Regions from separate parts of the Homo sapiens genome. Here all the other regions are linked to region 2. The links come from fine-mapping of genetic effects on gene expression. A gene starts in region 2. Each other region holds a variant in brackets. All regions are shown on one strand. Distances are from middle to middle.

Evidence for each region. PIP is the estimated chance that this variant, and not a neighbour inherited with it, causes the effect.
Region 1: its variant is the best candidate, but not a certain one, in a credible set for the expression of DDX60L in monocytes after Pam3CSK4 (Quach 2016, PIP 0.87).
Region 3: its variant is the best candidate, but not a certain one, in a credible set for the expression of DDX60L in whole blood (INTERVAL, PIP 0.74).
Region 4: its variant is the best candidate, but not a certain one, in a credible set for the expression of DDX60L in whole blood (TOPMed, PIP 0.68).
Region 5: its variant is fine-mapped to the expression of DDX60L in whole blood (INTERVAL, PIP 0.92). The same link has a PIP of 0.9 or more in monocytes after interferon gamma.
Region 6: its variant is the best candidate, but not a certain one, in a credible set for the expression of DDX60L in whole blood (INTERVAL, PIP 0.59).

What each region holds. Positions count from the first base shown.
Region 1 is chr4:168,427,919-168,433,450 of GRCh38, reverse strand. DDX60L (DExD/H-box 60 like) reads left to right here. Exons shown (of 38, transcript NM_001012967.3): 11 at 336-441; 12 at 881-996; 13 at 2,813-2,973. Among named protein-coding and RNA genes, the nearest start is that of DDX60L, 50 kb to the left of the region's middle. The variant A/G (reference allele first, on the strand shown) is at 2,333.
Region 2 is chr4:168,477,953-168,483,484 of GRCh38, reverse strand. It overlaps DDX60L (DExD/H-box 60 like), which reads left to right and starts at 2,993. Exons shown (of 38, transcript NM_001012967.3): 1 at 2,993-3,108. RefSeq lists an enhancer at 2,735-2,974.
Region 3 is chr4:168,453,654-168,459,185 of GRCh38, reverse strand. It overlaps DDX60L (DExD/H-box 60 like), which reads left to right. Exons shown (of 38, transcript NM_001012967.3): 6 at 1,178-1,294; 7 at 3,034-3,147. Among named protein-coding and RNA genes, the nearest start is that of DDX60L, 24 kb to the left of the region's middle. The variant A/C (reference allele first, on the strand shown) is at 2,817.
Region 4 is chr4:168,374,265-168,379,796 of GRCh38, reverse strand. DDX60L (DExD/H-box 60 like) reads left to right here. Exons shown (of 38, transcript NM_001012967.3): 31 at 1-71; 32 at 293-434; 33 at 1,322-1,443; 34 at 4,273-4,420. Among named protein-coding and RNA genes, the nearest start is that of DDX60, 58 kb to the right of the region's middle. RefSeq lists enhancers at 413-582, 3,046-3,215. The variant A/G (reference allele first, on the strand shown) is at 2,948.
Region 5 is chr4:168,506,776-168,512,307 of GRCh38, reverse strand. PALLD (palladin, cytoskeletal associated protein) reads right to left here. Exons shown (of 22, transcript NM_001166108.2): 2 at 1-885. The coding sequence starts at 803. The region is part of intron 1 of LOC107986198 (a long non-coding RNA gene); the gene reads left to right. Among named protein-coding and RNA genes, the nearest start is that of PALLD, 12 kb to the right of the region's middle. The variant A/G (reference allele first, on the strand shown) is at 3,266.
Region 6 is chr4:168,330,091-168,335,622 of GRCh38, reverse strand. No RefSeq gene overlaps it. Among named protein-coding and RNA genes, the nearest start is that of DDX60, 14 kb to the right of the region's middle. The variant AAAG/G (reference allele first, on the strand shown) is at 3,374.

The DNA.
Region 1 (5,532 bases), 50 kb after region 2:
TCAAGTGCTGTTATTACTATACTGTGACACATTATTCATACTGTGACATAATAAAAAAGAATAAGTACTTGGAAATGGAAAATCTACATGTTTGTCTATCTAGTGATCTGCTACCATCTACATACATATGTAAATGGTTATATACTAATTTTTAATATACTGGCTTGCTACAACATGTTTGCTTTGAGGAATATCTCATTTGGAAGCTCTAACTTGGTAAACATTAGTAAAATTTATGTAAAATATTATGCATTTGAAATTTTAAAAATAATGTTCAAAATTCATATAGGATAGTTACACCTTTCCTCTCATCTTAAATTTATATTTGTTTTCAGAAATCTCCTTGGAAAAGATGCCTAGTGTGGGCTTTATTCCAATGACATCTGCTGTAATTGATGAGTTTGTTGGAGATATGATGAAGGATTTGCCTATTCTAAAGAGGTACAGAGTTAATGAAGTACCTGATTTAGTGCCATCAACTTGAAAATACTAGTGAAGTGAATGACTCATCAAAATGTCTATGTAATATATCATATCAGGATATGGTAAATTCTATATAATGTGACTATAATACATTTAAGTGATTGTAACATCTAGTATGTCAATATTATTTGAACATTACTATATAAAAATCTATATTATTTTGAACGTATAATAAAATTACTCCAGCTATAAAGTTTACTACATTGTTGTTGATGTGGATGTGACTGTTACAGGAATGGCAGAAATTCAGGGTTTTTATGTCTCTGAGGTTTTATGACCCACATTATATCACACAAATAGAAAAAGAGGTTGTACAATTTCTGTTATCACAGCCTGAAGTTTGTGCTAAAATTTGAAAAGCTTAAAATTTAAAAAAATTATGTATTTATTTTTACAGTGATGATCCGGTTGTTCCTTCACTGTTTAAACAAAAGACATCTGATGAACTTTTGCACTGGCATGCTCAAAGACTCCTTAGTGACGACTATGACAGGATCAAATGTCATGTTGATGGTGAGCTCTGTAACCACGATAAAATAGAGCTTATATGAATTGCCTTTGCTGCTCTTTTTATTAACAGTGAAAAGATATTACATTGTAAACACGTTCTATTTTGAATGAGATCTATCTATATATTATATATAATATATATTTTGAATGAGATCTCTATATACAATATATACTATACATATATGTGTGTATATATATATACACACACACACACAATATATATATATATATTAATTGAAGAGGCACAGTAGGAAGCATGCTGTCTGAAAAAAATCCCATTATATTATCTGGTGTGCATATGTACGTATGCATGCAGATGTATCTGTTAATTCAAATAGAGATTTATTAATCTTTTAAGGATGTACATATGCATGGTATTGTCATGAAAATATCAGATGCTGTTTAAGTGGGAAAGATACTTGATGGTTTTAGGAATCTGTCTATACCTTGAAGTAAATATGCTGATACAGCCATAGTCTTCCTAACATTTTAGCTCTTTTCCTGCTAAACTATTGTCTAGTTGATTGCATGCTGCCAAGTACCAGCATAATTGTGCCCATGAAAACTCAGTAATGAGGAGGAGTTGAATCTACAAAAAGTAAAGCCCATGAAACAATTAAAAATGGGTCCTAAGGAAAGGAATTCATAGATCTTTTTTTCCTGGTTCATTCTTTTAGTGTCTTTCTCCAATCCGATGTTTATTTCCACCCTTTTCAGAACTAGTAAAACTTTTCTTTTTATTTTATTTTATTATTATTATACTTTAAGTTTTAGGGTACATGTGCACAATGTGCAGGTTAGTTACATATGTATACATGTGCCATGCTGGTGTGCTGCACCCATTAACTCGTCATTTAGCATTAGGTATATCTCTTAATGCTATCCCTCCCCCCACCCCCCACCGCACAACAGTCCCCAGAGTGTGATGTTCCCCTTCCTGTGTCCATGTGTTCTCATTGCAGAACTGGTAAAACTTTTCAGAAGGATCTAGAAATAAGTCAAGTAAGTATGCCAATTGCATATAGGAATAAGCTATTTATGTAAGTGTCTACGAAGATTCTGCATGGTGTGTTTCCAGAGTGGTTTGATTTGTGATCACATACACAGACACGGAAAAAGCAACAACATCCAAAACAACAAAACACTAGCTTATTTATATCTTTTATGTTTGTAAAGAGTGTTCCTAGGTCTCAAGTGAATCTAGCCTTGCTTCCTGGGAATTTTCTGTGTCATTTGAATTTTTGCATGGTGTAAGGTAATTGGTATCAGCATCTGTCAGCTGTAAGCTCCTAAATATTTGACTGGGACCAGAAGTAGAGGTTTTCCTTTTTAGGAGTGC[A/G]AACAGAATGTTTTAGGTCCGGAGTCAACAAACTTTTTCTGAAAGGTCTAAGTAATAAATATTTTAGGCTTTGCAAACCAAGAGACCAAAATTGACAGCATGATGTAGGTACTCATATAATCATTTAGAGTGTAACCAATTTTAAAAAATGTACTCATCAGATTTGATCATGTGGACCTAGTTTGTAGACCCCTGTTGCAGGTGAATGTGCTATTAGACTGCCCCCAACCTTCCTCTTCTCCTCTTCTCCTGCCAAATGACAGGGGCAATGTCCAGGTACTTAGACCCGGACATTAGCAGAGCTTCGTCCTCTCTCTTCTTCAAATAATATAGGGAATTATTTTGTTAGCGTATGGTAATCTGACCTCATTGGCAAATACTGAATTATTATTCTGGAGTTAAAAAAATAATGTGTGGGTAGCACACATATATAGCAATATTTTAAAATACATGTTTACATTTTAAGTCTTTCTATTTCAGAACAATCTAGAGATCCTCATGTTCTTGATTTCCTGAAAAAGATTCAGGATTATCAGCAATTTTATGGGAAATCGTTAGAATCAATCTCTACGAAAGTCATTGTGACTCAAACTACTCGGCCAAAGGAGGATTCCAGTGGTGCCAGTGGTGAAATATTACAGGTAGATCGCAAAGATTTTACCTAATTTTTTTCTTTGATGTTGTTTTGTTTTCTTTAGGCTCATATTTGTCTCTGGAGGTGTCTTCCATTCTCTTCTTTCTCATGTTTGCTAACTGTCTTAGTCCATTCTCACATTGCTAGAAAGATATACCTGCGATTGGGTAATTTATAAAGAAAAAAGGTTTAATTGGCTCACAGTTCTGCAGGCTGTACAGAAACTGTGGTGGCATCAGCTTCTGGGCCTCAGGGAACTTCTTTTTCTTTTTCTTTTTCTTTTCTGAGATGGAGTTTCGCTCTTGTTGCCCAGGCTGAAGTGCAGTGACACGATCTTGGCTCACTGCAACCTCCGCCTCCCGGGTTGAAGCAATTCTTCTTCCTCAGCCTCCCAAGTAGCTGGGATTACAAGCACCCACCACCAGGCCCGGCTAATTCTTGGTATTTTTAGTAGACACAGGGTTTCTTCCTGTTGGCCAGGCTGGTCTCGAACTCCCGACCTCAGGTGATCCACCCACCTTGGCCTCCCAAAGTGCTGGGATTACAGGTGTGAGCCACCACACCCAGCCTTCAGGGAACTTATAATCATGATAGAAGACAAAGGGGGAGATGGCACTTCACATGACTGGAGTAGGAGGAAGTGTTGGGGAGGTGCTACATACTTTTAAACAACCAGATCTTGCACAAGTCACTCATTCACTATCATGAGAACAGCACCAAGTGGGATGGTGTTAACCATTTATCGGAAACCCCCTCCCCATGATGCAGTCACCTCCCATCAGGCCCAGCTTCCAATGCTGGAGATTACAATTCGACATAAGATTTGGTGGGGCCACAGACCCAAATCATATCACTTACAAATGAGTTATTTTACTTGCTTGCCATTAGAAATCCTAAGAAGATTACATAAAATCTAGTATTCTATCTTTTTTAGAATAAGAAAAGATAGATTTATCTGATAACAAGCTTAATGCATCAAAGAATTACAAGCTTGGATTTAGAAAAGTCAAATTTAAGTTAAAAGAAATGTTTGTGGGCTGGGTGCAGTGGCTCACACCTGTAATCCCAGCACTTTGGGAGGCCAAGGTGGGCGGATCACCTGAGGTCAGGAGTTCGACACCAGCCTGGCTGGCCAACGTGGTGAAACCCTATCGCCTCTAAAAATATAAAAAAATAGCTAGGAATGGTGGCGGGTGCCTGTAATCCCAGCTACTCAGGAGGCTGAGGTAGGACAATTGCTTGAACCCAGCAGGTGGAGGTTGCAGTGAGCCAAGATCGTGTCACTGCACTCCAGCCTTGGTGATAGAGCAAGACTCTGTCTAAAAAAAAAAGAAAAGGAATTTTTGTATATTAGTTTGTTACAGTGAAAATCTTTTTACATAGAGGTGGTAAAAATAGGCCTAACATTTCCATCAGCTTCATTATTTTGCCTGAATTTGGAAAACTGTCCATGTTTTTAAGTCATTTATGCCATTAATCTGTCCTGGACTTTTGTTTATATTAAAGGTAAGACCAGGTCTTCTTGAAAGGGTAGGAATCTTCCATACCTATTTTCTTTCTCTTCCTGCCTTTACACTAGACCATGCTTGTTTACAAACTTAGAATCCCTGTAATTCAAAAAAAATTTAAAAAGATAATGTGGAAAAGTATCAGGTAACACAAATGATAGTGTTTATAACTGAACAAACGGTAGATTTTATGGTTCTGCTTGGGAAGGTACTACTTTGCGATCATTCTTCATCAGAGGGGATTTCATTAGGCTTCAGTACTTCTCTCTTAGCCTCATGGTTGGGAATTAAGGAAAGACATTTATTTGCTTTGGTAAATCCCCTTCCTGAGGTCAACCATGCTAAATACGTGAAAGAGCACAAACCAAACTATTGATGACCAATGGCACTTATCATGGCTGCCTTACCCTAACTGGAGTAGGAAAGGGAATATTTTTGGAGAATGAAACATAAAAGCCCCACAAGGAAAAGATCCAAAAAATGAAAACATTTCTCTTTCCCACTAATTTCAGAAAATTGTTAATCAGAGATCTAGAGTCTTCCTTTTCCTTGCCAGACCGTCAATTCATTAACCAGGCTGAAGTTGCAAAGGCTACAATCAGTGACAGGATATCTCCTCAAAGCCATTCTAGATAATAGTTATCACTGATTACACTGTAGGTTTCTTAGCACTGCTGTTGGGTCTCTCTCCTAGAGCTATTTAAGGGTCCATCCAGCCACACAACACATGCTTTCAACTGCAGAGGCTCCACCTCAGCCCACAGACCTAACCTCCTCTGGGCTGAGGGTGGCCAGGTGGGGCTGGCTCAGGCAAAGGTCCAGGCTTGGCTTCAAGCATAAGGATCAAAGTGAATACAGCATCCTGAAGCAACCATCTTCTGCAGCCTTTGTGCAAGGGCCTCACCCAGCTGAGCCCTTTGCTTTGCCAAGCCCTGTGCCCAAGGCTGGCTCCTGGGGCCCAGGCTGTGCACCTCTGCTCCTTTGGCAGCCCTAATTGCAGGGCCAGGAACTGATGGGAGCTCACTCAGTTCTGTTATGTTGGTAGTGTGAGGCCTAGG
Region 2 (5,532 bases):
TTCCAAGGTCCCCCCAAAGTCCTAATCTATTGTAGTATCAACTTAAGTCCAAAAATCCCATCTAAATCTCATCTGCTGAAAAGACCTAAATGATTAAATCAGGTATAGTTGAGACTTTGGGTATGAACCATCCTGAGGCAAAATTTCTCTCCATATGTGAAGCTTTAAGACTAGAAAACAAGTTATTTGCTCCAAAAATACAATGGTGGAACAGGAATAGGGTACCAGTTACAGATATTCCTGTTCACAAAGGGAGAAAATGGAAGGAGAAAAAGCCAAGAAATTTCAAAAATCTGCAAGGCTAACTCCATAGGTTTTAAGGCCTGTGAATAACCATTTGTGTCTCTAGGCTCTGCCCTCAGAGTCATCCTTCATGAAAGATAGCACAAGTTTGGGGCTGAATAGTTTTATCAGACTGTTTATTGCTTATGGAATTTTGGGAGTCCTATAACCGTCTTTCATTTTATTCTCTCTCTGTACCTTTCAGTTCAAGCTGGCAGTGTTTCTGCTGATATTCTCAGAAATCTTTTGGATTTCCTGTGTATGTCACAGAGATCTTTTTGAAGCACTAGCAAAAGGTTGTCCAGCTGTACTCATGACTTTTTCTCCAGAGTACGTTTTCCCAGCAGTGAGTCTCTTACTTTTACCATCCTTTGCAGTCTTGAAATCCTGATAATTTCCCACATTATCCTTGTCCTGGTTCCTTTTTGATAATAGTCCTTCCCTCTTATAAGGACCCTTCTGATTATATCAGGTCCCCAGATAATCCAGGGTAATTTCCCCATCTCAAGATTCTTAGGAATATCTGCAAAGTTCTTTTTGCAACAGAAGATGACATATTTATAGGTACAAGGATTAGGACATAGATGTCTTTGGGAGACCATTATTCAGTCTACCACAGCTGTAAATAGAGAGAGGTTAACAATATAGGAATGGAGTGAGATTCCTGAGGAAGCTGGAGGTAACCAACTCAAAAGGGAGTGGTTATATTGTATGTGGAGCATGTCATGGGCTTCTTGGACTAGATGGAGGTGTCAGACAGTTAAAAGGAGTCTCTTTAAAACAGATATATTCTTAGTGGACTTGAAGAGAACAGCAAGATGCTGTAGGGTTTTAAGGGCCACTGTAAAAAAGATCAGGAACCTATAGTCATAAACAGTAAATCTGAGGTGAAAAATATTAGACAATTTCCTTCAATGTCCTGGTAAGGGCAAAAAATGGTTTACTAGATTGAGGTGATCAAGTTGCAGTGAAGGTGCAGAGGAAAGAGAGTGGATGAAGCAGTTGAGAATGTTAGTGAGAGGAAGGTTCAGTGCCTGTTCACAGAGTTGATCCTGGGGAGGTGAAAGAGTGGGGCTCCTAAGGAGACTGAGAGATTGAGGCAAGGGGGAAGTCTCTAAAAAGTGGAAATGGAGTTTATGATTTTCAAGTTTCTGGATAATGTCCAGGCTGGAGTTATGGTAACATATTATTAAAGTGGAAGAGAACTGGATATTGATTTGGAGTAGAGTCTGCTTATGTGCATTGTACATATACTTTGCGGTGGGAAGTGGGATGTGTGGAGTTAACATCTAGGGAATCCCCACCTGATACATCTATATCTTTAAGAGAGAAAAACAACAGCAGACAGTCAATTATATTAAGAACATGTAGGGCCCACTTCTACAACCAAAAGAGGAAATCCCCATTAAATTGTATGTGCTTTGGGGGAGGAATAATGACACTGTAGTATTTAAAAGAACTGGAATGAGATAATATATACAGAGAATATTGTAGATATTATCTTTGGAATTAAATTTTGAAGTCTTGGCTACCATTAACTACCTGTAGGGTCATCGACAAGTAATTGAATTCTCTAAGCCTTATTTACCTCATCCATAAAATAGCAACAGTAAAGTTGCTCATGGGATTTCTGTGAGATTTAATGTGATAATACATGTTAAGGGCTTAGCCTATTGCCTGGCACATAAAAAGCTCAATGAATGCTTTTACAGCAAAGCCCAATTTTCTGCTGCTAGCAAATGCATTCTTATGATACAAAGGTCCAGTATCAGATGCTAGAGAGGAATTCATCTGAGATGAACTCATGACTTAATCATGAGTCATTTCAGGTTCTTTCTCAATGTCATCCTCATTGAGAAAGAGAATCATAACTATTTTCAACCAAACATAAAATTAAAGAAAAATCCTGACAGAAGTGAGCAATGTTTTCACCTCCTTTTCGAAGCCACTTTATATTCCAGAGTCTGAGAAAAAACTTTGTTCTTCTGGGCTCTTTCTATTGTGAACAAGTCACTTCCACCCTTTCCTTTTCTTGAAGACAGAACTTCCGGTTTCGATTTCTCTCCATTTATTACCCCATGCCGTTACTGGGGCACCCTCACCACCACCTTGAATCTCAATATATTCTGCACATGCATAACGTCATGGAATTAAGCGTCTGGAGCACTAAAGACCATGATGGGCTGGGGTTGAAACTCGAATTTCAAACATTAATGAGCTTGATGACAAAACTAAAGAGCATTCTTCTTCTCAATTTAAATTCTCTGTGATAGATGATTGGTCTTTCAAATGTTCACACTGGACAGTTATACTATTGGAAATTTTTCATAAAATGAACTTCTTAGGACAGAAACTCAAAGCCCCTAATCCTTTTTTACTCCATTTTTGCCTGTCCAGTACCTTGCCAGAAAAGAAAAACGCCACACCTCACCGCAGACTTTCATAGTGCTTAGCGTGCTGCATTTACTCTCAGCCTCAATTCCTTGTTTAGAGTCCCAGATTTCTCTGCTTTCTTTCCCTTTACAATTACATGCATGTCCCAGATAGCATATCATCGCTTCTACTATTACTTCCCTAAGATTCTCAGAGTAAACCAATGCAGACCTATATTCTACCTCCAGAAAACTGCGGAAATCGAAAAGGCCTCGCGGTGGAGAAAAGAAACCGAAACTAACTCCCTAGATAAAAACTCAGGCGCTGGCTGCTGTGTGGCTCAGAGCGCCCAGTCCGACGCCAGGCTCTGCGCTCGGTCTCCTCTGCTCCACCTCCTCCCCGCGGGGCGTGCAGCTCCGAAGCTCTTTGGACCTAGCAGGTTCGGCGGCCGGGGTGAGGATTGCGGGTGACGTCGGGTGTCGCTAGGGACCCTGGAGCGGAGCTGTCCCGCGGGGGTTCTAGGATTCCTTCAACATCCAGATGGACCGGGCGGGGAGGTGGCCTGGTGGCTTCGTGCGCGCCGGGCGAGGGAAGCTGGGGCGCCCACTGGGCTCGGGCGGCAGCTTCGCGGAGAGGTAGGGAAGAGGGACAACCACCGTGAGAGAGGAGAGTGCTCAGGCATTTAACGGGTCCTCTGCACCCGAGGGGGCCTGGGGATCTGGGGTGCTGAGGAGAAAGTAAGGGTCACCACATCTGAGCACAGCCATTCGAACCTGGACATTGACAGGCAGCAAGCCGCTTCCCTTTTTTCCGTCTTGTATTTAAGCTTTTTTTTTTTTTTTTTTTTTGAGTCAGTCTCGCTCTGTCGCCCAGGCTGGAGTGCAGTGGCGTTATCTCTGCTCACTGCAACCTCCACCTTCCGGGTTCACGCTATTCTCCTGCCTCAACCTCCCGAGTAGCTGGGACTACAGGCACCCGCCACCACGCCCGGCTAATTTTTTTTTATTTTTTATTTTTTATTTTTAGTAGAGACGGGGTTTCACCATGTTAGGCCAGGATGGTCTCGATCTCCTGACCTCGTGACCCGCCCGCCTAGGCCGCCCAAAGTGCTGGGATTACAGGCGTGAGCCACCGCGCCCGGCCGGATTTAAGCTCTTAATAGCGGAAATAAGGTTTTACTATTTCTCTGGAAAGGTACTTTGTTCTTTTTTCCCGCTTCTCTTTTGTTTACAAAGTTACATTGATAAATTTATAATAAACTTCTCAAGGTTTTCCATAATCAAAGAAGCTGACATCATCCGTGATGGGGCCTTAAGGATTATGAAAGCTCCTAATGACTGCTAGAAAAAGCGGTCAGAACCAAACAGAAGCAAGTCCTTTAAAGACACAATAAGAAGTCCAAACCATAACATCAACGACATACAGACCTTCATGATTTCGAGTGTTCTCCTGAAAACAGTAACATACCATTCAATCTAAGATTTGCAGTTTGAAGTTTGGTGGAACTCAGGTGCTGAGAGTTGAGGGTACTAAAATAAATGAGGGTGAGTTATGCTTCCAAGGCTCTTCGCCTTCTATCCCAAAGATATTGGGGATAGTTTAGTGTGAATCCTTCCTGATACTCTACAAAGAGACAAGTTTTTGTCTATAGCTCCTATCTCTCTATCCATCCATCCATCCATCCATCCATCCATCCATCCATCCATCATCCAGCCATCCAACCATCCGTCCATCCATCGATCCATCATCTGTCTATCTCTAGATCCATACACTTTAAAAGATATTTTGGCTGTCATACTGGTATGCTTTTCTTGGTTCATGATTTATTGGTACCTGTCAGTCTTACTTAGTAATTGCTGTATGATACCCCATGGTATGCTGGGTCATAATTGATCAGTTTTATTTGAAGCAGAAGAGAAAGACATAAAACAAAAATTAAATGCCCTTCTCTACTACTTTCCCCTTCATACTTAGTCTCACAGTTTTAGTTCTCCTGAGGCGTTACCACTCCAAAGATATACATTTCTTTCTTGGTTGCTTATAAATTATATGCTTACAAATCAGTCTTTTGTTTTATCTACTTTAGACAGACTCCGACGACTCCCTGTGAAAGAAATACTTCTAATATGAATTATATATTTTTAAAAATTCTTCTCAGGATTAGCTTTATGGCTTTTAATAAAATACCCATGTTAATTATCATCCACGGCTATGTTGATGTGGGTGGAAATCTCTGTGGTTTTCCCTGCTGCAGGCTCATTTTCTGCTTTGTAAGTATGGAGACCTGCTGGTTGATTTACTGATATCACCCTTTTTTATAACCTGCTGCTTGTTTTACTGATGTAACCATTTTTAAGGCAGCTCATAGTTTATTTGGAAATACAATTCTCTAAGAAATGTATCCAGCTTCTTATGCTCTAGTTAGTTCCCTATGCCGTTAATTACACCCAGAGAGTTTCTATTTTCATCCTAATTCCCTCTCAAATTAGCATAATCTGTCTTAAGTTCATTTGAAATGATAGTCTGGCCTGGGAGGGTAACACCTCCACCTAATACTTGCAGCAAGGCTAAGTCCTTCTGTTTAACTGAGAATTCTTTATGAGTCTTTGTTGAGCAAGGTGTTTTTTTTCTTTTTTTTTTGTCCTATCACTTTTTATTTGCAGTACAGAAGCTGTCACCTGTGCGACCCAAATTTCTTGGCTCCCTTCCTTCTTCTCCTCTTTTCCCCTCCCCTCCCCTCCCCTTCGCTTCCCTTCCTTTTTAAAATAGGGATGTGGTCTCATTTTGTTGCCCAGGTTGGTCTCCAACTCTTGGCCTTGAGCAGTCCTCCCACATCAGCTTCCCAAAGGGCTGGGATTATAGGTATGAGGCGCTGTG
Region 3 (5,532 bases), 24 kb after region 2:
GATGATTTTATTTTCTGTAAAATTATTTTCTAATTCATTATCTATAAGTATTTCCCTAAAAGAAGTTATTTTTCTCACCCCCTTTGGACTGTTTAAATTAGTCTCAATAAATATTATAGATGTATTATATGTTGATAATTGTTCAGGATTGGGGGTCCATACTACCTTCTCTAAGTTTCTATATTTTTGAAAGCTCCATAATACCAAGACAGTTCATTATATTCTGAAATAAAAATTAATTTGTCAAAGAGGAAATATGCATGTTTATCAGAGCTTAAGAAAAATTGTCCTAAAGACATATGAGGGTGATTTTACTTAGTATACCTTATAACAAATGTAGAATTCAAATGTCTCACTAAAAAAATTAATTTAACTTTATTTTAAATTCTGGGATACATGCGCAGAACATGCAGGTTTGTTACATAGGTAAATGTGTGCCATGGTGGTTTGCTGCACCTATCAACCCATCACCTAGGTATTAAACCCTGCACGCATTAGTTATTTATCCTGATGCTCTCCCTCCCCCGTTCCCCCAACAGGCCCTAGTGTGTGTTGTTCCTTTCCCTGTGTCCATGTGTTCTCATTGTTCAGCTCCCACTTATAAGTGAGAACATGTGGTGTTTGGTTGTCTGGTCCTGCGTTAGTTTGCTGAGGATAATGGCTTCGAGCTCCATCCATGTCCCTGTGAAGGACATGATGTTGTTCCTTTTCACAGCTGCATAGTATTCCATGGAATATATGTACCACATTTTCTTTATCCAATCTATGATTGATGGGCATTTGGGTTGATTTCATGTCTTTGCTATTGTGAGTAGTGCTGCAGTGAACATACTTATGCATGTATCTTTATAATAGAATGATTTATATTCCTTTGGGTATATACCCAGTAATAGGATTGCTGGGTCAAATGGTATTTCTGGTTCTAAGTCTTTGAGGAATTGCCACACTGTCTTCCATAATGGTTGAACTAATTTCATCCCCACCAACAGTGTATAAGCATTCGTATTTCTCTACAAACTCGCCAGCATATGTTGTTTCTTGACTTTTTAGTAATCGCCATTCTGACCAGCATGAGATAATATCTCATTGTGGTTTTGATTTGCCTCAAGTGTCTCATATTTTACAGCTGGGAAATACTTTATTTAAGATATTTTATATGGTTTTCTCCCTTTTACAGAATGAAACAGTGATTCAGAGTGCATATAAAAGCCTCATACAACACTTGGAAGAAATAAGGGTTTTAGTATTAGCAACTCATTTTGAACATTTGAAATGGAATGATATGATGGAAGAGGTATTAAAATTTTTATTTCTTTAAATAAAAGTTTGATAGAATTTGGTAAATGAGAATGAACTTGTGATTAGTTCAGTCCTTAGACCAGACTAAAGGGTGCCATATACCTCCTTAGTACATGTATACTATCTGAATCTTAGAATGTCATGCTCTCAGAGTACCTTGAATTCATCGGATGGCATATGTAATTTTATATTCATTTCCGGAAGCCATATTTTAAAACAGACTCTGGGAAACTAGAAAATTGTAGTACTTAATGCAACAGTAATGTTTATTTTCCAGTATTCAAATTGAGGAGGGCTCTAAGATATCATTTGCCATATAAACAGTCAAAATGTGGAATTAATTATACCTTAAGTCTAATTTTCTGATTATCTTCTCAAGCTATGCTTTATACTACTATTTATCATGATGGATTACTAAGCACCTCTTTCTTTTTTTTTTTTTCTGATGCTCAAGCGGTAAAAGGTGGTTGCATAAGAAAGTTTGGAAAAAAACACAAAAGTAGTAAGAATATCCATAATTCCACTTCTTGATATTAGCGTTTTAACATATATTTTTGTGTAGCTGAGGACATATTGTGTGTGTGTGTGTGTGTATGTGTGTGTGTGTGTGTGTGTGTGTGTGTGTATGTAGTTTATATATATGTTTTTGGTGTTTTGTTTTGTTTTTTTTTCAGACAAGGCCTCACTCTGTTGCCCATTCTGGAGTGCAGTGACACAATCATGGATCACTGCAGCCTTGACCTCCCAGGCTCAGGTGATCCTCCCACCTCAGCCTCCTGAGTAGCTGGACCCACAGGCATATGCCACCATGCCTGCCTAATTTTTAATTTTTATTTTATATAGAGATGGTGTCTCACTTTGTTACCCAGGCTGGTCTTGAACTCCTGGGCTCAAGTGATCCTCCTACCTTGGCCTCCCAAAGTCTTGGGATTATAGCTGTGAGCCACCATGCCCAGACTGTATATATATTTTTAGTGTACATTTCATTAAGATTATTGCATATTTTCTTGTCATTAAGAATTTTTCATAAATGTAGTATCTAATGAGTGCATTATATTTTCTTAATGCTAGACACTTAAATTACTTCAAAATTTTGGCTCATATAAATAATGTTATAATGAACATTTTGATGTATATGTTTTTTGTATACATATTGGGTTATTATTCCTCTGTGCTAAATTCCCAGAAATTCAAAACTGGATCATAAGGCATCAACATATTTAATGATCCTGATGGACGTTGTCAAAGAGCTTTGCAGAAATTCTATACCTACCTGTACTTTTATCTTTAATCTGTAAGAGAGGTGACTCACCACACAATTTTCAATGTTGTGTGATATTATTTTAAAATTTTTGATATTATTGATATTTATAACAAGCTAATTTTTGTTTTAACATATACTTCTCTGATTTTTAGTAAAATGGGATGATTTTATTTTTATTAATAATCTATTTCCTTCTTTGTGAATCAGTTCATGTTTTACTAAATCTTAATTTCTTATTATTTAATTTCTTTAC[A/C]TATTTAGGTTTTCATATTTCTCTGGCATATTGGTTGTAATTATTTTTCAATTTTCTATCATTAAAATGATCATACATTTTTAAACTAAACATTTGAAGTTCCGTTTAGTCAAATCTATACAATCGTTTTCTTTATGTTTCTTACAAGTAAGAGCACTTCTGAGTAAAAGAATATTTCTAAATAATTTGACATTTGAAGAAATTTCTTTTTTGATAGGCGTATCAGACTCTATTTCTGCTTCAGCACCTATGGTCAGAAGGATCGGACATCCAGCGTGTTCTCTGTGTCACTTCATGTTCACTATCCTTGAGAATGTACCATCGTGTCTTAGTAAGTAAAAAGAACACAGCCGCCAGGCAGAAAGCTGTCATTCATCAGGTGTAACTGGTATAACTTCACTGGTGGCATCAGGTTCTCCACTGTGGACATACTCTTGGTTTCTGACCGCCATTTTCTTCATTAGGAATTTAGCCCCTTCCCCCACCAATTTATGTGTATTAAATACCAAAAAGGGGAGAAAAATTAGAATCTGTATACATAAGAAAATATTATGTTACGTAATTTAGTGTTTTTCTTAAAATACAATGTACAGCAAGTTTTATCTGGTGTTTCACTTAGTAGTTATTTGGCCCAGTTCTTCTAAAAAACAGAGAAAGTGAGGAGGAAGAGGAAAAGAAACAAATTGGAGGAGGGGCCCCACTATACGCTGTGTTTCAGGGTCTTTGTGTTACCTGACACCATGTAATCTTACAACTTTTCAGTATAGCAATTATCACTCTCTCCTGTCGATTCAAGACTTTGAGACCAAGACTTCCCTAACCTACCTAAAATCACATGGTAAAAGGCAGCCTGGATTTTGACTAGGATGGTTGGCTCCACAGCTTGTAATGATTCTGCTCTGTTAAGTTGTGTATTTAAAAGAACAGTTCTGTTATTGTTTATTAGTGTCACTGAGACTATAGAGATCCTGAATTTTTATAATTGTTTTCAGCTTATAGGGCCCTTTAGGAATCTTTTGAGGAACATGGATTTTCCGCTCTACTATATGCATCCCTGCTTGCATAAGTACACACACACACACACACACACACACACAAAGTTTGTATGCAGTCTAGATATTGGTGTGTTTCAGGCTGAAAACTCTGTTCTTAAAACAAACAGCAATAAAAGAAATAGAAAAAAAAAGAAAAAGAAAAAGAAAGAAATAATGTGACTGTACAGGGCTCAAGAAGTTAGTATTCTATAGGAGAAAATTGTCCATTTCTTAAATCTATCAGCATGTTTTCATAAAATATTTACTTTGTGCATGGTAATATATATGCCAAAAATAAATATATTTGGAGAGAGAGAAGAAATAGACATGATATCTACCCCCACTGATCATACATATCTTGGAAGGCAATTTTAATGTCCCTTTGAAATAACTAGAGGAATTTCAGACCTCTAGTCTGAACCACCAACTCAACATTTTCACTTGGATTTGTAATAGACATCTCAAATTTAGGATTTCTGGAACCAAACTCCCCAAACCTGCTTCTGCCTCACTCTTCTCCATCCCAACAAATGACAACAACATTCTTCTAGCTGCTAAAAAAAAAAAAAAAAAAAAAGGAAGCTGTTTACTCTTCGGGAGCACCATGGAGAATGGAGAATGGAGAGAGCAGTGAGCATTTTATGCTTCTTCCTTCTTGATTCTTTCCTTAGTTTGAATTTCCCATCTTTGACTTTCTCTTGACTGATAACACATTTATTAATTCCCTTAGCTAAGGATATTGATTGTCTAATGTGTGCTAATAGCTGCTTTCAACCTACAGAGCTGGGATGTTATGAAGACTAGCTAATAATAGGTAACATTTAGGGCTTACTGTGTATTGGTGATATTCTAGATATTTCACGTTTTTCCAGAAACCCTATGAGAAAGTGTACTGTTACTATCCCAATTTTATACATATAGGAGAACTGACTCATACAGTGTCTTGACTGGAGTTAGACGGTTTTCAGAGCCCAGATCCTGAATTACTGTGCAATAGTCTTTTTAATGTAGGAGACAGAGCACTCCAATATTTTAATTTAGTATGTAGTACAGTAGATCTTAGCTATGTAGATTTCTCTAAAATTGTGAATTTGAATACTTAAATTTTGAAGATAAACAGTAAAAAATGAAGAACTTAGAAACTTTATTTCAGCATGATTGTCAGAATTTTAAGAGCATGCTTAAAAATGATAATTACCTTAATATATTCACTTTTATGTTATGCTGAAGATGTGCCGTGGGTGGGAGTGTGAATAGCACCCATCATAGGGTTCTGGGTATAAAAGCTGATTTCTCACAAAAGTTCATATTGATTAATTTAATTTGCTTCTTTCTCACATGATTTAGAGATGGCTAGGGATCACTGTCTCATTTGAATCTCCTTTACTCTATTTGCCTAATTGTTTTTGGAAAAATATTTTCAAATGACCATGCACGATGTTTTTGGTGGTTCTAATTTAAAAAAATGAACATATTGAACCCAAATCAATCTCCTTGTAATTTCAGTTATCCCTAATTTTGCTCTATGAAGATACCCAGATTAAGGTTTTTTTAACCTTCCATATGACAACCTTTTATATATTCGAAAATAGTTCTGAAGTCTCTGCCACAGGAGGTGAAACTTGACCATTTCCTTCCCCGATTTCTCATTCAATACGTTTTACAGATAGATTGCCATCCGG
Region 4 (5,532 bases), 100 kb after region 2:
TTAAGAGACGAAGAGCCATGGAGACTTTGAAACTTTACTTTTTGTTTTCCTTGCAGCTCCTTATCAAAGAGGTATCATCGTGCTTTGGCTTTTTGTTCTCTGTAACTAGTACCGTGTAAACTTCTTTCTATGCTAAACCAACTGAAATTTCTATAATCTGCATTCAATGATAATGTTACTTATCATTTATTAATAAATGAAGTCAGGTAATATTTGTCAGTCACTCACACTGGTATTTTATGGTATTTGAGTACATGACAAGTTAAATCAACTTTTTGTTTCTCATTTTTAGGACTATTTAAATAAAAAGGGTAATCCAAAGAAATTTGCAGGACTTGCATCATATTTGCATGGTCATGAACCTTCAAATCTTGTTTTTGTAAATTTTCTCAAGAGAGGCCTTTTCCATAATCTCTGTAAGCCAGCCTGGAAAGGTAAGCTTGGGTTTTATACCTGTAGTCGAAAAATGGCAACATATTTATTGAATAGCCAAAACCGCAGATATGTTTTTCTCTTCTTCCTCCTTCTCATTTATTAAAGCAAATAAATACTAAGTATATGTTCAGATTTACAGATGCCAAAAAATTAGACACTAAAAGTCAACTGATATTTATTCTAATAAAGAGTATTTGAGGGCTACTTATATATTACTTAACTGATAAAGAATATTTGCAGAAGAGAAAACGGAGAAGCATAGAAAGACAATAAGTTTCTGATGGTCATATGATTTTAGTATGCTTCAGAGCCCAGTTAATTAAACCTAGCCACCTTTTAATGCCCACAGTATGGTGCTCATGCGTTATGGGGAGTGGAGAGTAGGTCAAGATGACCAGAACCTAGAGCTAGTGTTTAGAAGTGTTGGTAGGTAAGTTTGGAAGCTTTGTTTTGACAGGATTTGAAACACCCTAAAGAGCAGGCCAAGGAACCTGGATTTTTCAATTAGCCGTTGAGATACCCTCAAAGGTTTTTGAGTAAAGGAGGGATATGTTTATATTCATGCTTTGGAAAGGCTGATCACTCTCAAGATGGCCTGAAGAAAGGAGAGTGCAAGTCAGGAAACCAGTTAGTAAACATTCTGGGGTGGGAACTAGGGCGGGTATAGCAAGGATGGAAAAACAAGGCACAGAATATAAAATCTCCTGTCTTACCCAAAAAAATAAATGTGCACATAGTATTGCAAATATGGTCAATTTCTGAGGTATATATTTGCTAGAAAATTTTGCCTTCAACAAAAGGAAATGTACTATAAAAACAAATTTAGGCAGAAAATAAATGGAATCAACATTATTCTTATTTATAATAATGCTCTTTATTTCAATAGGCTCACAACAATTTTCCCAAGATGTGATGGAAAAGCTCGTGTTAGTATTGGCAAATTTGTTTGGAAGAAAATATATTCCAGCAAAATTCCAAAATGCTAATTTAAGTTTTTCTCAGTCAAAGGTAAAGTTTGTTATACTTACAATGATATAATAATGATAGTTATTAAATGTATGCTACTGGAAAGCATTCAGTACCTATAGGGTTAAATTAATATAAGCTACTCCATTTGTTTTAATAGTGTTGTCTTTTCATAATTAGAGTTCTATTTAATTTTTAGTTCAAACATCTTCCCCTGCTAATCTAACAAACAATTCTTATCCCTAAAGTTTTTTCACTTTATTGGAGCAAATTATGTAATTCAGTAGCAACAGAGATTACATACACAAATAGTCATTTAAATAGAATGACAGCCCTACTGCTGAACCTATAGTTCCATTGGGATTGTTTACAGCTAGGGATGGGAGTGCAGGGAAGGAATTACATTATGACCTCTAATGTCCTCTTCAGACAATATTGAGGTGGTCACCTAAGAAAGAATCCCCTAACTTAAGGGTTGAGAGACTGAAAGAAAAATTATTTTCTAAGTTTTTTTGTAACACTGTTTGTTTCCAATTTCTTATTTTTTTAAAGACACAACAACAAAATAATAACAAGCAAACAGAACCCAAGAAAATGTGCATTAGAACCTGGGAATGTAGAAGAAGCTTGTTTCTATCCAGTAACCCTAGTGAATAGAGAACAAAAAGGTAATTAGCATTAATCTAGGCTTTCTGACCTCACAATGCCTCTGGATATACCTCCAGACCTGAGCACCCAATTTTAGTTACTGACATATATCCACATTGCAAACCACTGGAACTGTTAATCATTTTCTTAAATGCATACACATTTTAAAGTATTTAAAAAGGAAACTTCATATTTACTACTACTGTAAATAGAAAGCCAGGATCTTTGATTTCAAAACTAAGGAAGCCATAAAAATAGATGCAGTTAACATGGTTCTCAGCTGAAGCTTCTCTCTCTTTGCTACAAAAAGAGATTATAAACTTTTAGAGAAACAATGGTGGTCTATTGCCTCTGGACTTTCTAGGGTTATCAGAAAGAATAGAAGAGGACTGGAAAGAAGATATTTTTATTTATTTATTTATTTATTTATTTATTTATTTATTTATTTATTTATTTGAGACAGAGTCTTGCTCACTCACCCAGGCTAGAGTGCAGTGGCGCAATCTCAGCTCACTGCAACTTCCACCTCCCAGGTTCAAGCCATTCTCCTGCCTCAGCCTCCCAAGTAGCTGGGATTACAGGCTTCGCCACCACGCTTGGCTAATTTTTTTGTATTTTTAGTACAGTTGAGGTTTCATCAGGTTGGCCAGGTTGGTTTTAAACTCCTGACCTCAAGTGATGCGCCCGCCTTGGCTTCCCAAAGTGGTGGGATTACAGGCATGAGCCACCATGCCCAGCCCACTTTTTATTTTTTAAAACTGATGTATAATTACTCAATGTTCTGTGTGTCACACTAAATCATCTCATGTACCTCTTATATTATGTACCATAATTTGGGATAACTGCTCTATATTAGTCAATTAGCAAAGATTTATTGAGCAATAAATATGTGTAAACT[A/G]TAGCAAAAATCATGATTGGGAAACATAGTTGCTACCTTCCAAGAGCTTGCTCTCCTGATGGGGCTGTATAGCATACACATTCGAGAAGGTGGCAAACAACACAAGGTGTACATGGTAAGCAGCACGTGCTGCCCTAGAACGGTGTCCAGCAGTGGCACAATGGCAGGACATGGAAGGCATAGCAGTAAAGAGACCATATCACTTTGACCAGAGTGTAGAGCTGCACCTGTCAATTTATTCTTTTGTCTTGGTCCATCCACAGATGGAGCTGAGTCCGAAGTAGGCTTGTGGAAATTGTCATACTATCCACTGTAAGGAGTTGGTAGGGGCATTCTTTATTATGTCCACACGGTTGCCTTTTGTAAGAATCCCCCTGGAAAATTCTTACCTGATATTAGTGCTGAGAATAAATAGCTGTTTATCTCATAGACATTCTGAAATGTGTCATTCACACTTGCTCCTAGGAATCTTGGAATATAATTTGTGCCCCATTTTAGTCTCTTTCTTGTTTTTCTTTCCTTTTTACCAAATTTTGATTTATATGATCATATTGTATTATCTTTACCCTTATAAAATACCTCAATTATTGGAAAAGTACAGGTTATGAATAAATTAAGGAAAATATCAAATAAATAATAAAACCCATAATTGTAACAGAAGAAAACCAAGAACATTTCTAATGTCATAGCTATTTCTAACTCACACTAAAGAAACTTCTAGTCCTAATTCTGAAAGAATTTGTTTTTAAACATGAAATTTGGAAGCTGAGTTAGCTTGCAATACCAGCTACTTCTCTATCTACTACCTGTCAGGTTTGGAACAAGTTTACCTCTGTGAGGGTTAGCTCCCTCATGTACAAAATGTAGATGAAAATGTTTACTGCATAGGGTTGTTCTCAGGATTAACTGAGCTAACATATAACAAGTGCTTGGGGCAGCAAAGCACAGTGTTGGCACATAATCTGAACTCAATAAAGCATTGACGCTACTACTGCTACACTAACTTGTTACTTGCTCTCTAAATATGTCCCTCAAGTCTCTGAAATATACCTAAGTTTAAGATCAGTGTAGGACATGTTTCTATTAAATTGGTGGTTTTGGCTAAGTGGAGTCAAAATAACTTTTTTAAGGAAAGATACTTACATTTATAAATGTTGGTTGAAATCAAAAGGAAATTTTACCTTAATCTCACAGGTGAGTAAAGTAATCAAGGGTTTTGATGAATGAGCATCAATCTACAGAACTATGCTGCAATCTTATCACCAAGCAGTTTAATTTTTTAAATAAAAGTAAAGAGATCTTTCTGAAATGTATTTCGCCCATAGGTGATCCTTGCCGAACTCCCGGAGGATTTTAAAGCTGCTTTATATGAGTATAACCTGGCAGTAATGAAGGATTTTGCCTCCTTCCTGCTGATTGCTTCCAAGTCGGTGAACATGAAAAAAGAGCATCAACTCCCTTTGTCAAGAATCAGTAAGCAGATTTTAGTTCCATTCCGGAACAATTTAAAGAGTAAACAATCTTGGTTAAGAAAGCCTCTGGATATTGGATGCTTCAAAGCTGGTAAAGGAGCTTATTACAGGGCAGCTGTACTAACCCAAGTGTTTTATCCCCAGAAAACAATTTAGCCCATTGTAGGGTGTGATAATGGCTCTGTTTTCCAATTAAAAAAAAACTTTATAATTACCAAATATTAATTGGGCAATGGAGGAAAAAAAATAAAAGTCATTCATGAACCATTTTGATGGAAAGTTGCCTATCTGTTCAGGTTGGAAAACTGGATCAGAAAAAGTGACAGATGAAAAAGAAAACGGCATAATTTCTGGCATTTTTTTCCCCTGAGGGGCAGTTGCATAGTGGTTACAAATGTGAACACTGGCAGCAGAATGCCAAGGTCTAAATCCTGGCTCTGCTACTTATTAACCATGAGGTCTCATGCCAGTTACTTAATCTTTCTGTGTCTCATTTTTTTAATCTGTAAAATGAAATGACTAAAAATATTACCTAGCTTACAGAATTTTAGAGGATTAGGTATATTAATGTTTATAAGTTTCTTAAAACAGTGCATAGCACATAGTCAACATCGCGTAAGTCTATTCTACCCAACATGGTAGCCACCAGCTAGCTACGTGTCACTATTTAAATTAAGTTGATTAAAAATAAAACAATTGAAAAGTTAATTCTTTAGTCACTTTAGCTTTAGTCACGTTAACTTTCCAGTGCTAGTGGCTTCTACTTTGGACACAGTAGAGGTAGAATATTTCCATCATTACGGAAAGTTCTAGCAGACGTTGCAAATATCATTCTTTGCTTCAATTATTTGTTCTTGATTGAGGAGTAACTGGTATTGCAAAGTAACTAAGCTTCCAAATTTCAATTTTATAGCGGGAAACTTTTAGGGGAGAATAAATGGAAAGAAGCTAGACTAAGAGTAAAGAGTGGAGCCATAAAATGATTCCCATATTCCCCTGTCTCCTAATATAGTCATAGTTGGAGTAAAAGACAGGGAGGTAAGCATTGTAGCTACTCAAGATTTGTTGATGTAGGACACAGCATGAGCAAATGCAGACAATAATGGTGGAAGC
Region 5 (5,532 bases), 29 kb before region 2:
GGGAAGTGGAGGGCGCTGTGGGGCTGTGGGTGAGACTTGCGGTTGTGTGGCACTGCCAAGTCCTGGTTGTCCTGGTAGCAATGCCTGGCCCCAGGGGACTTGACCTCTCTTTCCATCTCCCCTTGGTCTTCCATAGGGCTCTGGCTGGCTGAGGCACTCAGCAGGGCTGACGGCTGATTTTTAGGAGACAGGTACCCACTGTCTGGTGACGAGGACTCCCCATTTGGGCTTCTGTTTCTTGGCTTTGCGGCTTTAAATATGGATGTTAGCTCCTCAATTAAATTAGCTGCCTTGTCACACAGCTGGCTCTGGGGGCCACCCTTTCTTTGATGTGGCGTTTTGGGCTTTACGTTTGTGCTGGGAGTTTTTGCACCACGCTTTTCAGCCTTTCGGAGGCTCCGGATGTAGCTGGGCCTGGTGAGCAGGGGTGACATGGCAGGTTTCCTCTTTGAAACAGGTGAAGAGATACTCTTAGTTTGTTTCTCTGCCAGAGGCTGGACAGGTGTTGACCTGTTATCCTGAGGTCTCCTCGAGGCGTGTTCACCCAATTTGGTCTCCTTATGGGAAGGATGTTCACAGAGGCTTGCAGGAGAAGTACTGAAAATCTGCGAGATCTCCTTTTCCGAGTCAAAATCTTCTGTTTCGGAGTCGGCTATGGCTCTCCGGGCCAGGTCAAGACTCTTGTTTATCTCTTCCTGGCTGAGGAAAGCAGAAAGGCCCGGGAAGAAGTCAGTATTCTTGCTTTCTTCCTGCATGTCTGAGAGGGAGTCATAGAAGGACTCATGGGAGGAGGTCCCTGACATATTTGAACGGTCTTCATGCACTCTGTGTCTGCTTTCAGTAGGAAGGCCAGAGGCACTGGAAACTGTTTTCTGAAACTGTGTTCTGAAAGACAGCATAGAATGTCATTAGTAGCAATGATTTTTTCCCCATTTTAATCATAAAACTTGTAAGTCACAAATTGGGAGAAACATTAAAGTGAATGAATATAAGTTTTCTTTATTTTACAAGTTGGAAGAAATATCAAGTATACTTGTGTTGATCATTTTATGATTTTAATACATGCCCTGTGAGTGCTATCAAATATCTCACTAGGCAGTATTAAATCATTCAAAAAGATGATGTGTGCAGTAGGCACTATTAGTAGGATAGGGCTCACAGTCAGCCCCCCGCCCACCTTACTCAAACTCTAATTGATTAATGTAATGAGATCAATAGAATATTGATATTTTTAGTAAATCTGACTCTGATTATCCAACCCTAAACCACAAAATGCATTTTAAGGATTCCAATTTTCATTTATTTATAGTTTTCAGTGAAATCTTTGAAACTTTATTGTCTCCAGTTATGTGCATTCATATTCATTCACTCAACAGTCCAACAGATGGTAATAATCACTTATTAAATTTCAGGTGCTGGAAGTACAGCTGTGCTGTATGCCAGGGATGGGCAAACTTTTCTGGAAAGGGCCAGATGGTAGATACTCTTGACTTTGTGAGCTGTTCAGCCTCTATTATAATTACTCAACTCTGCATGAGCATGAAACCAGCCAAAGATGATGGAAATGAATGAGCATGACTGTGTGCCAATAAAACTTTATGGACACTCATATTTGAATTTTATATCATTTTAATGTGTTAAAACTATTATTATTTTGATATTTAATTTTTAAACAATAGTTTTAAAATGAGAAAAACATTCTTAGTTTGCAGGGCATACAAAAAGGGTTGGGATGGATTTGGCTCAGGGGCTGAAATTTGCTGACCCTTCATCCAGACTTACAGCACAGTTATCATGTTCAAGGAGTTAAAAGTCATGGGAGGTAGTAAAGTGGAGGAGATAGAGAAGATATTAAACAAATAATATGTTAATAATATAAAATTTTGATAAGGCTTTTAAGGAAAGTGAGAAAAACCTGGGGGCTATGAGAGTCTAATCTAATCTTAAAGGGCATGAGATAACTAGAGGCCTGGCATAGAACACTTACATGGGAATATCAGCAGAATTAAATAAAAGGTATTTCATTATCTGTAAGCTATTACAGCTTTAAATTCCACTGACATTTTGAACTTTATATTGTGAAGCAATGACTCCTTGTTACTCTAAGTGTGCCATTCTTTTGCTATATATTGTTCATAGAGTACTGAGAGGGACGATCTAGAAAACATCAGCGGTGATGTCTGCCACAAGACTGAGTCTAGGAGTGAATAATGGAAGCTTCCTGGATGTGGTGAACCTCAACTTTCTACCTTGTGTCAGTCAGGAGTAAACTTGGTGGGACATTCCCCAGAAATGGTGTGTCTTCAGAGGACTGAATTGAGTTGCTTGCGTAGAAGTATCTTCCCATCTAAGAAAATCTCTAATTTCAAAATACATTATGCAAGAGTCGAGGGGGTTGTAGAAATCCAGCTCAAGAGCCTACTGCTTCACTGGATGCAGTGAGTCATAGACCTGCTGTTTAACAGAGGGTAGTTAATCAGAGATCCTGAAACTCAATGTTAACATACCCCATCTTCTTAAGTGGAATACTGTACTTTTGTCTTACATGTCTTCTTAGAAAGATAGTTACTTTTTTTGTGCCTGAATTATTAGATTCACCACATGCTAGCCCTACTCTATCTACTGAACCATATTTCGCACTCTTCTTCAAGTAAATCCTTAATCCTTCAGAGGGTGTCATCATTCTCCCTGACTTTACTAACCCAAATATCACTCTAATTCCTTTGTCCAGTCTGTGCTGCAGGATAGAAACATCCTGACTGGTCTCCAGTTATTCAGATATGGCTCGTATATGAGGAACAATTATATTCAGTGTATTTTTAATACTTGAATGTATTTTCTTCATGAGAAACAGGCAGTTAAAGTATGATTTTGAAAAGGCAAAGGTATAGTAATATATAAAAATCAAATAACATGTATTTGAGCTTTTATTTAACAATTGAAAAAATCAGTAATATATTACAATTATTTCAAAGGAGACGCTGAAGATGAGACACATGTAGGCAATCAGGCATGCTGATATGAAGTTGGTAATAGATTTGAAACTGGTTAATATCTATAGAGCAATAAAATACAATGTTTGGAATCATAAGAGTGGAAAACTATAGCATTTCTACTAGAAAAAAAATCATTTGTATATCTATGCACCAGTATAATTTGCATTGTTTTTAGATTTTTCCAACTTACAGAGTTGTAAAATTGTAAAGACAATAAAAGGCATAGACCCCTGTGGAATTAGATGACCCTGGAACGTCCACCAGAGCCA[A/G]TCCAGCAATGGTACTGGGTGTCTATTGCAAGGACACCCAGTACCATTTTGTATATTGCAAAACGTTTTATAGTTTGTCCTACCAAGGCAGCCTGGTTTCTCTCAGTAATGAGCTCTGAAGTACAATTGGCCCCTCAGTCAGCACACATGGTAGATAACTTTAGGGGAAGCCAGGATCAGGATCAACTCTTACAAGGTGTGGGGAGATGAGCCATTAGGTAACATGGATCCAGAAGAGACATGAAGGTGGAGAGGGGGAGACTCGGGGGCTGAAAGTAGGTTTGTGTACCAAAGGCACAACAGACTATATTTTCATTTATTGCATTTCTTGTAAAATTTATTTTTCTTTGAAAGAAAGCTACTGTGTTTTTTATTTGTTATTTATTTATTTATTATGGCCTGAAAGAAATTCAGTTTTTGTGTTGAAATCAGTGCTAAAGGAGATTGAAAAACATTTTGTGTCAACCAAACCTGTGGTAGATTAAGCTGAAAATCCAAGGAAATAATTGCAACAAAACCTTTGATTCTTGACATGACGAAATTGTGAAGCCTAAGCTGGGATAGATGTACTACATGGACCAGAATTACCCACTCGAAGTGTATTTATGGACTATCTACCACATGCCTGGTAGTGCGCTAGGGACGGGGATATGACCTTGAAAAAGAGAAGGTTTTTGCCCTCATGGAACTTAATACAAATTACAACTAAATAATAAGCTTATATAATTGAGTATGTCTTTTTTTAAATTGTATTTTATTTTTTAAATTGACAAATAATAATTATACATAATTATGGGGTACCTAGTGATGTTTCAATACGTACAATTTATAGTGATCAGATCAGGGCAACTAGCATATTCATCTCTAACATTTATGATTTCTTTGTGTTGGGAACATTCAACATCTTCCTTCTAGCCATTTGAAACTATAGAGTATGTTATTGTTAGCTATAGTCATCCTGCAGTGGTATAGAAAAACAAAGTGCTGTGATAGCACCTAGAAGCAACAGCAAGGTCAGGATCAGGAAACCTTTGTGAAAGAGAGAAAGCTGAAAGAATGATGTGTGAGGGATGAGGAAGAGCGGGGAGGTGAAGAGGATACTGGCAAATATGTATTTTAAGACTTGGATCCCAGAGAGCACATGGCAGACTCAGGTAATTCTACTAAGCATTTCAGCTAAACAGAAATCTATCTGGAGATGGGAAAATAACCAGAGATAAGGCTAGAAAGCAGGAGTTAGGTCAGAGAGGGCCTGGAGCCATGCAGAGAACTTGCATTTTATGTTATGGGTAGTCAGTAGGCAAGGAAGAGTGTTAAGTCCTTGAGAAACATCACCAGACTTACATTTTTGAGAGATAACTGATTGCAGTCTGGATCCGGGACAGAGGTAGGGAAAGAGGAAGACAAGACTGACAGTAGGGCGGTCCGTGAGAAGGCTTGTGCAGTAATCCAGGGGGTGCACACATTTATCATGGTTTCACGTTTGGTGTTGCTGTCATCTGGACGTCTTCATTTTGGAGAATTCCTCATATTCTGAGGCTCAGTGAGAAACTGAACTCACTTGTAATGGGATGTGAAATCTCCAAGTATTTTCTTTCCCAGCCGCTTGGAGACTGGGCACAAGTCTTGGCACTTGGCCTAGACAGCGATTAGATGTGTCCTTCTTGGACTCTGAAGTGAGAGCTGGTGATTCAGGGAAGCAGTGGGTCCAGGGTCCATAAGATAGATGATAGAAAGGAAAGAACTTGGTAATTGATTAAAGGCAGAGGTGATGCAGAGGCAGGGTTACAGGTTTCTCACCTCAACAACCAGATGACTGGTACCATTAACTTACATGCTACAAGTGGAGGAACAAGTTTTTTTATTTTATTTTATTTTATTTTTTAAGCTTGATTTTGATTTGAGCCTTTTGCAGTTGAGGGACCTTTGGTAACTCTGGTGTTGATGTCTAGGAGATTTGAGATGCTGATCTAGAGCCCAGGAGAAGGGAGAACAGAGCTGGATTGGGGATTATTAGCCTATGGGTGGCACTTTAAGACATGGGAATGCATAAGGTCATCGAGGAAAAAAGAAGGAGAAGATAGAATCCTTCGAATAATCACAGGGAAGCAAGAAAAGCTAGATATCGTGGAAGCTGGGAAAGAAAATATCTCAGGAAGCAGTACATGTCCTTTTGATTTTTGATTTTAGCAACTTGGGAATATTTAGCACCATTGCAACAGCACTTTCGGTGTATGCAACAGAAATATAAGCCAGATTGCTACATG
Region 6 (5,532 bases), 150 kb after region 2:
TTAAAGGTATAGTATGTGATTCCAAGTAGAAGAAGTGACACTCCAATGAAAGCTCTTCTTCCTATGATCTTCTATGTGCATTTAAATTTTACTCAAGTGGTAGATTATCTTAACGTAGTAACCCAGTAACTATTATAAAATAGCTACCTGTTTTACTCACATTGTTAGGTAAAAGTGGTCATCAATGTTGATGAATATTACAGACATAGCTCATAACAAGAAAATCAAATTGATTGTCAGGAATCATATAGGGACTGGGTTTAAGCCAAGTTTTCCCAACCTGTGGCCCAGGATGGCTTTGAATGTGGCCCAACACAAATTTGTAAACTTTCTTAAAACATTATGAGATTTTTTTTGTGATTTTTTTTTTTAGCTCATCAGCTCTCATTAGTATTAGTATATTTTATGTGTGGCCCAAGACAATTCTTCCTCTTCTAGTGTGGCCCAGGGAAGCCAAAAGATTGGACACCTCTGGTTGAAGTCATACATTGATTTCTCAGATCAGTTCCTAATACATCAAGCGTCCAAGAAATGTTTGTTGGAAGAATAACTAAATGGATGAATGGACGAACCTAACTTACATATTTTTATACTGTATACCTTTAATTTGGGGCAATCTAAGATTGTATCTAGGCTTAAAATGAAAAGCCCAAGCAATTATCTCTACATATTGATTTAATTCAGTTGATAATGACTCAACGTTCCATTTTTTCATCTATTAACAACATTATAAATGAGATTGTGAATACTTATAAATAATATAAATATAAGACTAATGTCAAAGATTTCTTCATATTGTTAATGGGTACTAGATCATACAACAGCAGAAGATGCTAGAATTAAATATAGCCTGTAGGGTAGGACACTTGTTCATAACAAGGATAAGTCTTTTCTTTAGTTGTCAAAATGACCCCACAAGACCCATATTACCTATTCTGTAGAGTCTGTGTTTAATGTAGTCTAATGTTTTAATCCTCCAAATAGCAAATATAGGTAAATAGAACAAAAATCATGGCTGTCCCAGTGTCTGGTAGCAGAACCATATCTAAAGGGTGAAACTATAATGAAAAATTCTTTGTTATGTTAACTTGGAATTGAAGTACTGAGTCTTTTATTTATATGATACTTTATCATCACACTTGATCCAGCTTCTTATTTAAACAAGTTTCTAAGTGAGCTTGGCTGATTTAACATATGATTTTTCTTTTGAAAACATCACAAATATCATAATACAAACCTAACAGGACAAAGATTGGAGTAAGAGATAGTAAAATATGCTGGAAATCAACAAGGTTGTTGGAAATGGTAAACAGATGAAGTAGTGATGTAACTAAATTGAAGAGCAGAGCAAATCAAAACTGAAACCCCTTCAGAAAGAGATGCTGATGACATGCAAACGATTTGTCTTAGAGCCCAGGGAGGCTCAGGAATTGGAGGCACCAGTCACTTCCTTACAAATACTGTTAATTGGCAAACTATGGATATATGTAGTGAGTTAGGGGCTTCAAACCAGGATGAAAGAATCCCTAAGGTGCAGTTAGACCCTACTTTCCCATCCCCACTTTTCTCCAGAAAAACTAATCCGGAAGCCTTCAGACCTAAGAACGCACATCCTAGAAGACAGCAGATGAATCACTGGAAGAGGTCTGGGGAATTGGATTGAGGAAGGGAAAATAAGAGCTTCAACTGTGCTTGTAATTTTATTTCTTCACACAAGATATGGTACAATATGTAAAAATATTAACATTGGAAAAATCTTGGTGGTGGTGTGAGCATTAGGGAGTGGAATAACAGGATTAATTAGATAAATGGTGAATAATATCATATATACAATATATTATTAATTTTTAAATAAAATAGATGCTTTTTCTCTTAACAATTAAATTATATAAATCTACCATCAAGTTAATGTTTTCAAATGTTTTATTTAATTTTAAAAATTTATTTTTAATTTTTGTGGGTACATAGTAGGTATATACTTATGGGCTACATGAGATAGTTTGGTACAGGCATGCAATATGTAATAATCACATCACAGAAAATTGGATATCACCCCCTCAAGCATTTATCTTTTGTCTTACAGACAATCCAATTATACTCTTTTAGTTATTTTAAAATGTACAATTAAATTATTATTGACTATAGTCACCCTGTTGTGCTAGCAAATACTAGGTCTTATTCATTCTTTCTAATTTTTTTGTACCCATTAACCCTCCCCACCTCCCTCCGATGTTTTATTATTGAATGAATAGTACAGATCTCAGAGTCTCACCAGGTTTTTTTTTCTCCAGAGTGAACTGCACCCAGGCAGTAACTTTGATAAATCTTAGGTAAACTTTACAACCCCATCTCAATGCAGTGCTGAAGAAATGCTCACTATTTAATATTTCCTTTAATAAAACCTTACTCATTTCTTTTTGCTGTTGTTGACTCTTTTTTTTTTTTTTTTTTTTTTTTTGAGACGGAGTTTTCGCTCTTGTTGCCCAGGCTAGAGTGCAATGGTGCAATCTCCGCTCACCGCAACCTCTGCCTCCCGGGTTCAAGCGATTCTCCTGCCTTAGCCTCCCAAGTAGCTGGGATTACAGGCATGCGCCACTACGCCTGGCTTATTTTGTATTTTTAGTAGAGATGGGGTTTCTCCATGTTGGTCAGGCTGGTCTCAAACTCCCGATCTCAGGTGATCCACCTCCCTCGGCCTCCCAAAGTGCTGGGATTACAGGCATGAGCCACTGTGCCTGGCCGACATTTTAAAATGAATAAAAAATGTTTCCCTTCCTCTTAAGGTGTGTTAAAAAAATACAAGTTTTCCCTTCTACCTCTCAGGAAGTCTAGCTAAGTCTTATTATAAGTAGACTTCCTCTATCTCAGAGAGAAATTCACTTTGTATTTCTGAATTATAAGAATAAAAAAATTGCAAGTATAGGTGTAAAAACCCTCAAAATGATACAGTTTTATACGTATGATGGAAATAATTCTAGAAGCATCAGATGGGGCTTGTGCTTCTAGAGGAAGATGCTGGTCTTAGCCTGAGAAGGAGTTGAGTTCTCAGAGCCTGGAAAAGCAGGTGGGTGGTGGGTTCTGTGATTGGCCAGGACACTCATGCAGGACAGAACAGTGTCAAGGCATAGCAGGCCTGGACATAGACTCCTGAGCACTCAGCATTAAGCATCATGGCCTTGGAAGCTGCAGTGAAAGTAGTGGGTGCCTCTTCTTTGTAATGGACCATGGGGATTAGAACAATGAGTCTCATGGTGAACCGCAGTGGACTACCGACCAGAGGAGGCCTCCCTGAAATTTGCCTGGGTTCCCTGGCCCGTAAATCCGGGTATAAGGCCAGTGAAGGAAGAAATTCATAAGAACAAAAAAAAAAAAA[AAAG/G]GAAAAAAAAGCTTATTCTCCTGAAAGGTCTGAAAACTGGATATGATTTCATCAAAAAACATAATGCAACATGACATTTCTTTCATTCTGTACAGAGTGGAGAAGAAAATACCTGTTAAAAAATATTGCAATACAGGAATATGAAATACAGAACTTCTCTTCCTTAGAAAATTTACACCAGACTAAGACTCTTAAGTTATTATAACAAAGTTAGACTGATTCATTGAGGATGAGGTTAGTGCCTGGAAAGTAATACAGTGTTACAAATTAGTTTTTTTAGATGCTGTCAGGTTAGGCTGGTGGTGTGCGCCCATAGACCCAGCTCCTTGGGAGGCTGAGGTGGGAGGATCCTTTGAGTGCAGGAGTTTCGGTACAGCCTGGGCAACACAGTGAGACCCCCATCTGAAAGCCATTTTTTAAAAATGTTGTCTTGAGGAGCGGCCAAGATGGCCAAATAGGAACAGCTTTGGTCGGCGGCTTCCAGCGAGGACAATGCAGAAGGAGGATGACTTCTGCATTTCCAACTGAGGTACCCAGTTCATCTCAATGGGACTGGTTAGGCAGCGGATCCAACCCACAGAAGGCGAGCAGAAGCAGGGTGGGGCATCGCTTCATCCCGGAAGTGCAAGAAGCTGGGAGACCTCCCTCCCCCAGCCAAGGGAAGCCATGAGGGACTGTGCTACCCTACCCGGTTACTACACTTTCCCCATGGTTTTTGCAGTCTGCAGACCAGGAGATTCCCTCGGGTGCCTATACCACCAGGGCCCTGGGTTTCAAGCACAAAATGGGGTGGCTGTTTGGGCAGACACCGAGCTAGCTGCAGGAGTTTTATTTCATACCCCAGTGGCACCTGGAACCCCAGCAAGACAGAACTGTTCACTCCCCTGGAAAGGGGGCTGAGGCCAGGGAGTCAAGTGGTCTCACTCAGTGGATCCCATCTCCACGGAGGCCAGCAAGCTAAAATCCACTGGCTTGAAATTCTCGCTGCCAGCACAGCAGTCTGAAGTCGACCTGGGACGCTCGAGCCTATTAGGGGGAAGGGCATTTGCCGTTACTGTGGCTTGAGTGTGCAGTTTCCCCCTGGCAGTGCTAAGGAGGCTGGGAGGTCTGGGCTGGGCATGGCAAAGAGATTGTGGCCAGATTGCTTGTGTAGATTCCTTCTTACTAGGCAGGGCATCTCTGAAGGAAAGGTAACAGCCCCAGTCAGGGGCTTACAGACAAAACCCTCATCTCCCTGGGACAGAGCACTTGGGGGAAGGGGTGGCTGTGGGCACAGCTTCAGCGGATTTAATCTTTCCTGCCTGCTGGCTCTGAAGAGAGCAGCTGATTCTGACAAGAGGGATTCTCCCAGTACAGTTCACCAGCTCTGCTAAGTGACAGACTGCATCCTCAAGTGGGTCCCTGACCCCCATGCCTCCTGACTGGGAGAAATCCCCCGACAGGGGTTGACAGACACCTCAAACAGGAGAGCTTTTGCTGGCATCAGGCCAGTGCCCCTCTGAGATGAAGCTTCCAGAGGAAGGAGTAGGCAGCAATCTTTGGTGTTCTGCAGCCTCCACTGGTGATACCCGGGCAAACAGGATCTGGAGTGGACATCCAGCAAACTGCAGCAGATCTGCAGAAGAGGGGCCTGACTGTTAGAAGAAAAACTAACAAACAGCAACAACATCAACATCAATATAAAGAACCCCTAAACAAAAACCCCATCCAAATATCATCACCCTCAAAGATCAAAGGTAGACAAATCCACAGAGATGAGGAAAAACCAGAGCAAAAATGCTGAAAATTCCAAAAACCAGAATGCCTCTTCTCGTCCAAATGATCACAATTCCTCTCCAACAAGAGCAAAAAATGACAGACAGTGAGACTGAAGAATTGATAGAAGTAGGCTTCAAAAGGTGGGTAGTAACAAACTCCTCTGAACTAAAGGAGCATATTCTAACCCAAGACAAGAAAGCTAAGAACCTTGATAAAAGGTTACAGAAACTGCTAACTAGAATAAGCAGTTTAGAGAGGAACATAAATGACCTGATGGAGCTGAAAAACACAGCACAAGAACTTCATGAAACATACACAATTACAAAGTCAGCTTCATCCCCTGGGATGCAAGGCTGGTTCAACACATGCAAATCAATAAACGTAATCCCAAGAATGCC